Linked DNA regions of Homo sapiens. The protein of the gene in region 2 purifies or fractionates together with the protein of the main gene of each other region. This does not show direct contact. Each region holds a gene or a part of one and is shown on either strand. Other genes may lie near its edges.

Region 1 (5,072 bases), on a different chromosome or scaffold from region 2:
ACAAAACCTTGGGGGTTCTTTAGTTCATTCATTGTTGGTGGGTTCATTCTGAATGAGCATCTTTAATAAAACAGCCTCCCTACTTAATATTTGCACAAGAAAAATCTTAAAAACATTCCAGTTAAACTAAGGTCAGGCACCTATCATTGGTACCTTTGCACAGAGTCAAAAATTGAAAAATAAAGACATGAAATAAATAGTCTGAGCTCACAGTGCTCTGCATTCCCAGTTCATTCTTAAGTGTTGGTTCTTTCTAAGGCAGTGTATTGCTTTTCTTCATTTGTTCGTGCTCGTGCATTCCATAGACGTTCACCCACCACTTTCTCTAAGCCAGGTCCATGGGGACTCTGATGAGGGACACCCGGCCCCTGCTCCCAAGTTGCCCCAGTCCGATGGGAGGGAGGCAGCCAAAGAGACATCATGTCCCCTTGTGATAAGAGCTGTGGTGGGCACAAGTACAAGGGCTCTGAGAGCACAGGGGGCTGGGGAGCTCCCCAGAGGCACTAATATCTAATATCCTGAAAGCCTCAGAGAACCTGTCGAGGATTTTGAGCAGGAGCGTGATTAGATCAACTGTGTACTTTTACAAGTGCAGTAGTATATATTTGAAAGTAATATGCAGTCTATAAAGGAATTCCAGTGGTATCTAACTGGATTTCTTTTTACAGTCTTTGTCATTATTCAGATCTCTCGTGGAGTCTGACCCCTTTGGTGTAGGCTGTCTCCCTAAGGGAAAGTGGTTGAGTCTTATGCTTTTCAGCAGCCTGAGATCCCCAGGGCAGGCATCATTACTGCTGGCTAGATGAAAGAAGGAGACTTGCCCCCACCTCTGGCTCCAGCAAGTCCAAAGCCAGAGGCCACACAGAGAGAAGGGCATTTCACGCAGTCACTACCAATCCCCACAGCAGTCATGTCTTCTTGCAGACCCCGTGCCTATTGAGCTCAGCTAGACAGGCCTCTGTGGCTGTGATTTTGGGTCCCAGGCCTCTGAAGACTGTGCATCATATTTTTCAAACTAATGAGGTTCCTTAAACAGTGTGGCATTGCCACTTCATGTCTCCTCATTTCCCTGTCGGGTAGGAACATCTGCTAGGGTCCTGGGAAAGGCAATTAGCAAATTAGAGTTTTTGTTTTCTTGCTCAGCCATGATTGAAGCCCCAGAGCAGATCCTTCTGGATAATGTCATTAAGCATCCCCATCCAAGCATGACGTAGGAAATTAAGTTTGGTTTTGGGGAAAAGTGACGGAGGCATCCTTTGGCGTTCTTCAGGATGCTGGCTGCTTACTGGGTTGAGAGATGATGGTATTCCTGTCAGGAAGATGGATCCTGTTGTATGTCCCATGTGCCTGGCCCAGTGCTGCATGCTGTAGTGGAGATGAGGAGAGGAGAAATGTGCTAAGTGCCCACTCCCTCTGGCTGGAGAGAGAAGGCAGGGATGAGCCCGACTTGGCCACTGCTGTGTCCCTTGCTCTCAGCTGCACAGTGCCTGGCACTGTGTTCACTAAGCATTTTTTGAACGAATAAATGAGGGTTGGAAGCAGGGAAGGATGCAAAGCAGTAGCTAATAAAGGAGTAGACTGGATACAGCCAAGAGTCAGCTGCTCAGGAGTGAGAGTCCAACTATGATAGTGGCATTACTGGGCTTCATGTCCCCATATCCTGACTTTAGCCCTGGCCCTTTCTCTGCTTCATCCTCTGAAAAACAGCAGAGCATGAGCCCTCCCTGAAGCCCAGCACAACCTCTCCACAGTCCATATGTGTGTTCTGCCCCATGTTCAAAGTACCAGGCTTGTGTCTTGCATGGAGGGAGTAGTGCAGTGGCTGGGGGCACAGAAGTGCTGGTGAAAGTTTCCTGCCATCAGAGGAATGCCCTCAAGGTAGAAAAAAGCAGATCAGTAAGGCCTGAAAGATGTCCCCCTGGCTGGCTCAAGGGTGGACAGAGGTACAGGGCAGGCCCCAGGAGGCCTACTGGATCAGGGCAGGCTTCCTAGAGGAGGTGGAGCTCACCCTCATGGACTAATTATCTCTCAAAGGCTCCACCTCCAAATACTATCACACTGGGGCTTTGTGTTAGGCCATTTTTGCATTGCTATAAAGAAATACCTAAGACTGAGTAATTTATAATGAAAAGAAGTTTAGTTGGCTCACGGTTCTGCAGGCTTTACAGGAAGCACGGTGCTGGCATCTGCTTGGCTTCTAGAGAGGCCTCAGGAAGCTTACAGTCATGGCAGAAGGTGAAGGAGGAGAAGGCATGTCACATGGTGAAAACAAGAGCAAGAGGCGGGGGTGGGGAGGTGTCACACACTTTTAAATGAGCAGATATCTCTCCAGAACTCAGTCACTATCCCTAAGACAGCACCAAGCCATGACAGACTCACCCCCATGACCCAGACAGCTCCCACCAGGCCTCACCTCCAGCACTGAGGATTACAACTCAACATGAGATTTGAGCAGGGACAAATATCCAACCTATATTAGGCTTCAACATGTGAATTTGGGGAGGACACAATCAGTTCATAGCCAGGCACATTCAAGTGGTGAAATGGCAATGTTGGAACACATCCACAATTTAAAAGAGCACTCACCACTTACTGGAAGCCCTGTGATGTGCCAGACTTTACAGGTGTCTGCTCTGATACTTGCAAAAGCAGGTGAGGTTAGCACATAGTTAGCAGCACTTCCAACCAGTCTCAGAGAGATTAAGTTCTGGCCTAGGGTCCAACAGACAGGTGGGGATTCACATCTAGGTCTCCTGTCCTTCATTAGATTGCCCAGCTGCTAGTTTCCCTTAACGGCTTATCATTCATGGACATGAGCACTCTGCTGTGCGCCCTGTACTGGGGGAGCAGCAAAGGGGCTGTCTATTTACTTGCCCACCTTGTCACACCACAGTGTGAGCACTCTTCAGGATCTCTGCCTGCCTCTAGTAGGGACAGAGACTTTGAGACTATGATTGCAAAGGAGAGCACTGGGCCCTCAATGACCCAGTATGGGCCAAGCCAAGTACTAGTAAGAGGTCTTCCCTGGGGCTGCTGTTTGGCTGTTGCTTTCAAACATGTTTAAGTGTCTTTTCAGCAACAGCAACTCCACAGTTGGCATGGTTGTGTGCAAGGATAAAGCAGTTTCCCTTAGAAATTTTCTGTGTGGGCCACACAGAGCTGGTTACAGTCATTGCTGTGGAGAGGGCATTATTCTAAACAACATGGAGGAAGAAGTAAGAGCACAGGCTTGTCATATGGTAACTCTGGGGTTGATCCCAGTCCTGCCACTTCCTGGCTGTGTGACCCCAGGTTATGCAAGTTATGCAACCTCTCTGAGCCCGGGCTGCTATTGCAAAGAGTGCTGCGTATGTATGCAGTATGTATGCATGTGCTGTGTACATAGGTAGTTTTGTGCATTTGAGAACATATCTGAATAAATGCTGGAAGTAGAATTGCTAGGTCAAAGGGTCTGTATATTTGCAATTCTGAAAGATGGTGTTAATTTGCCATTTGCCGAGGCTAAACCAGTTTATATCCACTTTAGCAATGTATGAGTCTGTCTTCTGTTCCACACATTCTCCAAGCATGCGTTATCCATTTTTTTGACCTTTAATAAGCTGATAGACAAAAATGGCATTTCAATGGAGTTCTAACTCATTTCTTTTTCAGTATACATTGAGTATCTTTTCAAAGGAACCATTTGTTTTTGTGTAAACTGTTGATATCTTTTCATATTTTGTACTTGTATTCATTTGTAGGAGTTTGACATATATTTGTTGGTAATTTGTGTTGCAAATTTTTTCTTATGTTAAAACAAGTCTAACTTCTTTTACAAGTGCTTTCAGCTACACCGTTTTGTTATTTCCCATTTTCATTTCTTGTTTTACATATTTCTGTCTTCTCCCCCATTAAATGATTATATGGTTTATGTTTTATGTGTTTTTAAAAATTTAGTTACTTATGCATTTAAAGTATATTTAGTGATATGTGAAAATGCAAATTACATAATTTTTAGGTGAAATAATCTAAATAAAGGCCCATTATACCAATTTTTAAAAAGAAAATTCATTATAATTTATAGACCAAAAAAAAAGAGAGAATAAAGCAAAATTCCTCCAAAAGCTGACAATGTTTATATCTGGTTAATGAGATAGGAGAAAGAGGTGAATTCTAGTTTTTGTCCTTTTTTTGTATTCTCTAAAATTTAGACATTTATTTAACCTTTTCTAATTAATGAGCTTTATTTCTTCAGAATAGTTTTAGATTTAAAGAAAAACTAAACAGATAGTACAGAGAGGTCCCATATGCTCACTCCATTTATCACCCTAGTTTCCCCAATTATTAGCATCTTACATTAGTATGGCACATTTATCACAACTAATGAACCAGTATTGATACATTATTATTAACTTATTTTAATAATTAATATTAATAATTGTTATTAACATATTTTTTCAGATTTCCTTTTTTTCTCAGATTTCAGTTTTTACCTAATATCCTTTTTCTTCTCTTTCTTTCTTTTTCTTTCCTTTTCTTTCTTTCTTTTTTTTTTTTTTTGAGATGGAGTCTCCCTCTGTCACCCAAGCTGGAGTGCAGTGGCACGATCTTGGCTTACTGCAACCTCCACCTCCTGGGTTAAAGCAGTCCTCCCACCTCAGCCTCCAAAGTAGCTGGGACTACAGGCGTGTGCCGCCACACCTGGCTAATTTTATTTTTTTAGTAGAGACAGCATTTCACCATGTTGGCCAGGCTAGTCTTGAACTCTTGACCTCAAATGATCCACCTGCCTTGGCCTCCCAAAGTTCTGGGATTACAGGTGTGAGCCACCAAGCCCAGCCCCTAATATCCTTTTTCTGTTCCAGATCCCATCCAGGATACCACATTATGTGGAATTGTTAGGTCTCCTTAGGGCCCTCTTCACTATGATGGTTTCTCAGACTTTGGTTCCGATGACCTTGCCGGTTAGGTCAGGTATTTTGTGGGATGGCCTCCAGATGGAATTTGTCCTTTGTTTTTCTCATGATTAGAGTGAGGTTATGGGTTTTGGGGAAGACACCCAAAGGAAGATTTCATTATATCATATCAAGGGT
Region 2 (5,617 bases):
TACATAGTGTGTCAGATCCTTAAAGGTAAGAGTGATTTAACATGAGACAAAGCTACTCCCCTACAATGCTTTGAAAATTTTTTTAAAATTAGAACCCTAAGGGACTATCTTTTGATACTATCAATGTTCAACATCTGGTATGCTTTTATATGTCTGAGAAAAGTGGTTTTCAAACTTTGGGTTACTACCCACTAGTATACCATGAAATAAATTTAGTGGATCATGACCACATTTGAAAATTGAATAGAATGAAATATATAGGTAATTTCAAATTATGTCATAAAAAGACTAAGCATTGTTCACAAGCATTTATTTCTATTAAGCTTGTGTGTTTCAAAATATGTAAAATATAATCTTAACTATTGGTTGCAGTAAAAAAAGTTTGAAAAATAGTTTCTGGTGTATATACATTAAATTATATGATAGTACAGGCAAAAATTTTTACACATTAACACACAACTCCAATTTATGCTATATGAATTATTATTTGGGCACAGGCATCTGCATTCAACTAGATTGCACTAGAGCTTTGTGACATTAATTAAAAAATTATAGCTTCATATTCCCAGATTCTGTGATTGGTCACAATATTAATGTGCCTGCACAATCCTCTCCAGGATGAATGAGGAAAGGATACTAAAAAACTGGTCTTCTGACCCTTTCGAATCAAGTGATAACACTTAGAGTTGTATCATAGGATATAGGTTTTCTGGTTTATTTTTGAAAGCAAAAAGCATATTTAAAGGTTAACTAAAAACGCACTGGATTTACAAAAAAGAAAAATGATATGTCTGAATAGGAGTCATTATTTTAAGACTAAAAAAAGAGAATCAAATGAAGAAATGCTGGAAAATTGGAATCACTTCCAAATTGCTCTATTTAATTTTACCATAAGCATAATAGTGGGTGAAGTTCAGCTAAAGATAGGGGCATGAAAAAAATGTGATTTGGTATTGCTCTTTAGGGAGGCAAATTAATTACAAATTAAGACCATCTGGGTTAAAGAATGAATTGTCACCTTTTAAGAACCAGGAATAAAGGTAAATGTTCACTTTAAAACAAAGGGAGAAAGAACATGAGAAAAATCAAGAGTAAATCCGTACAATATTACATACACACAAATTGGGGGAAATAAACATTGGCATGGAAATGCCACAAAATAAAATACCTATGGAATGTAAAAGTCAACTATGGTCACTGAATATTGAACCCAAAGTTATTGGGGAAGGTAGAATTTCCTTGTATTTCTTTCCCAGGGCACTGGGGAGGGAAGTTGGGGATAATCGGCTTCAGGAACTTGAACTCATTGGTCCCTGAGCCTCCTGCCAGACACACCTCATACTGGTAGCTCTGGGATAGGGTCCTGGTGCCGCTCATGTCCACAAGATGCCCTGGAAGGGGGCCCTCGGGCACCAAGCAGCGACCCACCGAGGCCGCCCTGCTCCTCCTACACAGCCGCACCGCCACGAACAGGAGCACCGAAAAGAGGAAGAGCGAAGACACCGAGGCCAACGCCACCACCAGGTAGACGGTGAGCAAGTCGGCCTGGGCCTGGGTCGGGGCCGCCTCCGGGAGAGGCAGGTAGGGCTGGGAGAAGCCGTCCACCAGGAGCACGTGCAGCGTGGCGGTGGCCGAGCGCGGAGGCTCGCCATTGTCCTTGACCAGCACCACCAGCCTGTGCTTGGCCGCGTCGCGCTCGCTCAGCAGCCTGGCGGTGCGCACCTCGCCATTGTGCGCCCACACGCCGAACAGACCGAGCTCCGTGGCCTTGAGCAGCTGGTACGACAGCCAGGCGTTCTGGCCCGAGTCGCCGTCCACCGCCACCACCTTGGTCACCAGGTAGCCCGGCTCGGCCGCCCGGGGCACCAGCTCGGTGCAGGGCGCGGAGCCGTTCTGCAGCGGGTACAGCACGAAGGGCGAGTTGTCGTTGGCGTCCAGCACCACCACGCGCACCAGCGCCTCGCTGCTCAGCGCCGGGGAGCCGTGGTCTGAAGCGCCCACGCGGAACTGGAACCCCTGCAGGGCCTCGTAGTCCAGAGACCTGAGGGCGAACAGGTGGCCGTTGTCCGCGTTGATGGAGACCAGGGATGTGAGGGGCAGGTGCGGGTCCTGGGGCGGCAGCAGCGAGTAGGTGACCTGGGCGTTGGTGCCTGAGTCTCTGTCTGTAGCGCTGACGCTGCGGATGTGCAGGGCGGGGCTGTTGTTCTCGCGGACGAACAGGGTGTAGGAGGTTTGGGTGAAGGCGGGAGCGTTGTCATTGACATCGGCGATCAGCACGGTCATATTGAGCTGTGTTATCAGCATAGGGGTCCCCAAGTCAGTGACAGTGATAGTGATGTTGTATTCCGCTCTGCTTTCTCTGTCTAGTGGTCTCTCCGTTAGTAGGGTGTAAAAGTTTTCCGCGGATTTCAGGAGGAAGGGTAGATCCTCCTGAATGGAGCAACTAATTTTCCCATTTTCTCCTGAATCAAGATCTGAAACACTGAAAAGTGCAACCACAGTTTCAGGCGCGTTCTCAGGTATTGGGCTGGTAAATGCAGACATGGTAACTTCTGGGGCATGGTCGTTCACATCTATCACTTGAATCAGAACGGTGCATTTTCCAGAAAAGGTTCCAGCATCTCTTGCCTCAATATTGACTTCATAGGACTGAAGTTTTTCGAAATCGAGTTGTTTTTTTAGTTCAATTTCTCCTGTCAAGGGATTGATCTTAAAGGTTTTGCCAATCTCTTCTGAAGCTTGGAAAAGTGAATAGGAAATCTCTCCGTTGACTCCTGTGTCTACATCCGTGGCAGAGACCTTCACAACCAGGAAGCCTACCGGACTGTCCTCAGAGATCTGCACTCTATAGAAAGGCTGCTCAAATTCAGGGGCATTATCGTTGACATCCAGGACTTCGATGTAGACCTGAGCAGTGCCAGATCTGGGCGGAGAGCCACCATCCAGTGCTGTGAGTGTTAACCTGAGCTCAGCTTCTTCCTCTCGGTCCAGCGCTTTGTCCAGCACCAGCTCTGGGTATTTCCTGCCATCACTGCGTTTGCGGGTGAGGACCCGAAAATAGGAGTTGGGGCTGATTATATAGTTCTCAATATTGTTTTGGCCTACATCTAAGTCTTCGGCATTCTTCAGAGGAAACGTAGTCCCAGGAGGACTGCTCTCTGATACTTTCACCAACATTTGTTTGTCCAGAAATACTGGAGAGTGGTCGTTTATGTCTATTACTTGCAGCTCAGCTTGAAAAAACTCGAAGGGACTCTCTAGCAACACTTGGAAACGTAGCACACAGGGCTCTGTGTGACCGCACAGATCCTCACGGTCCAATTTCTCATTTAGCAACAAATCCGCGGTCTCCTGATTGAGCTGCAAATGTAGTTTGTTCCCTCTGGAAACAACCCTAACCCCCCGCCTGGAGAATTCCCTCTGCTCCAGACCCAGGTCCTTTGCTAAATTGGTGACAAAGGAGCTGCCCTCAGTTTCCTCCACCACAGAATAGCTTCTAGGTTCCGCCGCGCCCGCCAGAGATAAGCCCAAAAGGAGAAAGGAAAAAAGGACTTGCCTTTGTCTGCAAATGAGCTTCCCGCTGGCCTCCATTGTTCTTGCTGGATTCAGCTTCCTGGGAGGACGGTTCTGTGGGACTGTAAAGTCCCCAGTATCTGAGGCTGTGGTTATTCTACAGATACCTCAGAAATATGCCAGTGAGTAGTCCTCTCCAGAGGACCCAGCCGTCCTCCCTTTGGCATCCAAGCTCCCCGTGGACTTCCAGGTTCTGCTGCTTTTTGCCGGTTAATGGAGCTGCAGCTGCGGTTCTGGTTTGTGCCTTCTTATCCTGCAGCGCCACCACGCGTCCTCACAGGATCTTACATTTTGTGGAATGATAATGGATGTAATATTCCCAACTCTGCCTGTATGCACCCCGAGACTATGTAAGGTTACAACACCACCGTTAATATCGCCGGACTTTAGTGAGCAGACAACTGCCCAAAGGAGAAATCACATTAGTCTTTCAACAATGATAACTGAGTTTTGGGCAGAAAGGAAATATTTAGGTAATAGTCTAGCTTGGCAAAAAGAATTTCAAATATAATTGTAGTTATCATGGACAACATTTAGATCTTTATAGTTTTATTTCCATGAACCATAGGAATAATTAGTAGCTGTGAACCTCGAACAAATTATTTAATCTCTCTGCTTTAGTTTGCTCCTCTGTAAAGTGAGGATAAGAACAGTACCTACCACATAGGGCTGTTGTGAATTCCCCACCTTAAACATGAGGAATCTAATGCAAATAGATATTAACCTTAAAAATAAGGTATATACCAAGTATAAAGCAATTTGATGCCATCAAGTAACTGAGTCTTGATGGCATAAATCCATCATAAGTCTAGCATAAATCCATTACTATAACTAGATAAACACCTCGAAATTCAAATGGTAGAAGAATACAGGAGCATGACTATCTCAGGTAGAGAGGTTATGTCCAATAATGAAAGGAAATGAACAAGGAAAGGCTGGAGAGTTTGTCTAAATAGAGACAATATCTGTAACAGCAGTGGTGATTTTGTTTCTGGGAAGGATGTCCTTTTTTATTACCTCCACTTCTAACAGCATCAATTAAAAGACATTATTTTGAAATTTTTCAAATCTCATAAAAGAGAGGAGTATAATGATCCTCCAAGGACTCAGTACTAGCTTCAACTATTATCAATGTTTTGCCATAATTCTTGACTCTATCCCTTCAACATTTTCACATCCCAGACAAACTGAATTTTCTCCCACAAATACGTCATTATACATTTCTTTAAAAGCATCATGACTTTAAATGACTCTAAAAATATGCTTAAGTACAATGCCATTATCATACCTAAAAATCAAGTTAACATTATTTAATACCCATCTATATTCAAATTCTTCCAAGTTTTTCAAAGTCATTGCTGTTGTTTCAATCAAGATCCAAAAAAGATCCACACATTGTATTTGAGTGGTAGACCTCTTAAGATTTTTCCTTGTGTAAACTTCACTCCTCTTATTTTTTGAGCCATTTATTTGTCAGAGAAATTGGATAATTTTACCCTGAGACCATGAAAGCAATTTTAGATTTTACTACTGTGAGTTTTTGTCCTTAGATTCTATCCCACCAGTGATATGCAGTAATACTAGCTTTATTAGAGTTACTGGCACTAGTTTATAATATATTTAGAACACAACTATGCAAAAATTACCTATTTTAAATATAAGAATCGGTTATATATTTTTAACAAACAATGCTTCTCCTTAACTCCCCAAAATTTCTAAAAATTTAATGATCATCTATATTTCTCTTTGATATTACACATTTAAATCTATTCTTTTTCTTAAATTTTCCTGATTCAGCAGTGCAGTATAGGTAAGAAAAACTGCTAAAAACAAACTCTCAAATCAGGAAAATATATTACAAATGTAAGCATGGGTGACTCTGGAAATATACTACAATGTAAAGAAAATAATTAACTAATAATGCCATCAAAATTATGTACTATTCCTAATCAGGACCATTAATCTTTTCTGTGAAATGATAGTTATATGTTCAGGAGACAATGAGAAGGCATAGGTTGCTCTTTCAATTTTGTTTTTTACTTAA

Evidence for each region. The genes of interacting proteins can lie anywhere in the genome.
Region 1: the proteins of PCDHB13 (region 2) and SPSB4 purify together in Homo sapiens (co-immunoprecipitation; one large-scale study listed by IntAct). This does not show direct contact.

What each region holds. Positions count from the first base shown.
Region 1 is NC_000003.12:141,057,215-141,062,286, forward strand, and holds part of SPSB4 (SPRY domain-containing SOCS box protein 4), read left to right. Parts: intron 1-5,072. UniProt on the Homo sapiens protein: Substrate recognition component of a SCF-like ECS (Elongin BC-CUL2/5-SOCS-box protein) E3 ubiquitin-protein ligase complex which mediates the ubiquitination and subsequent proteasomal degradation of target proteins.
Region 2 is NC_000005.10:141,212,098-141,217,714, reverse strand, and holds the start of PCDHB13 (protocadherin beta-13 precursor), read right to left. Parts: upstream 3,797-5,617; 5' UTR 3,592-3,796; coding exon 1,195-3,591; 3' UTR 1-1,194. UniProt on the Homo sapiens protein: Potential calcium-dependent cell-adhesion protein. May be involved in the establishment and maintenance of specific neuronal connections in the brain.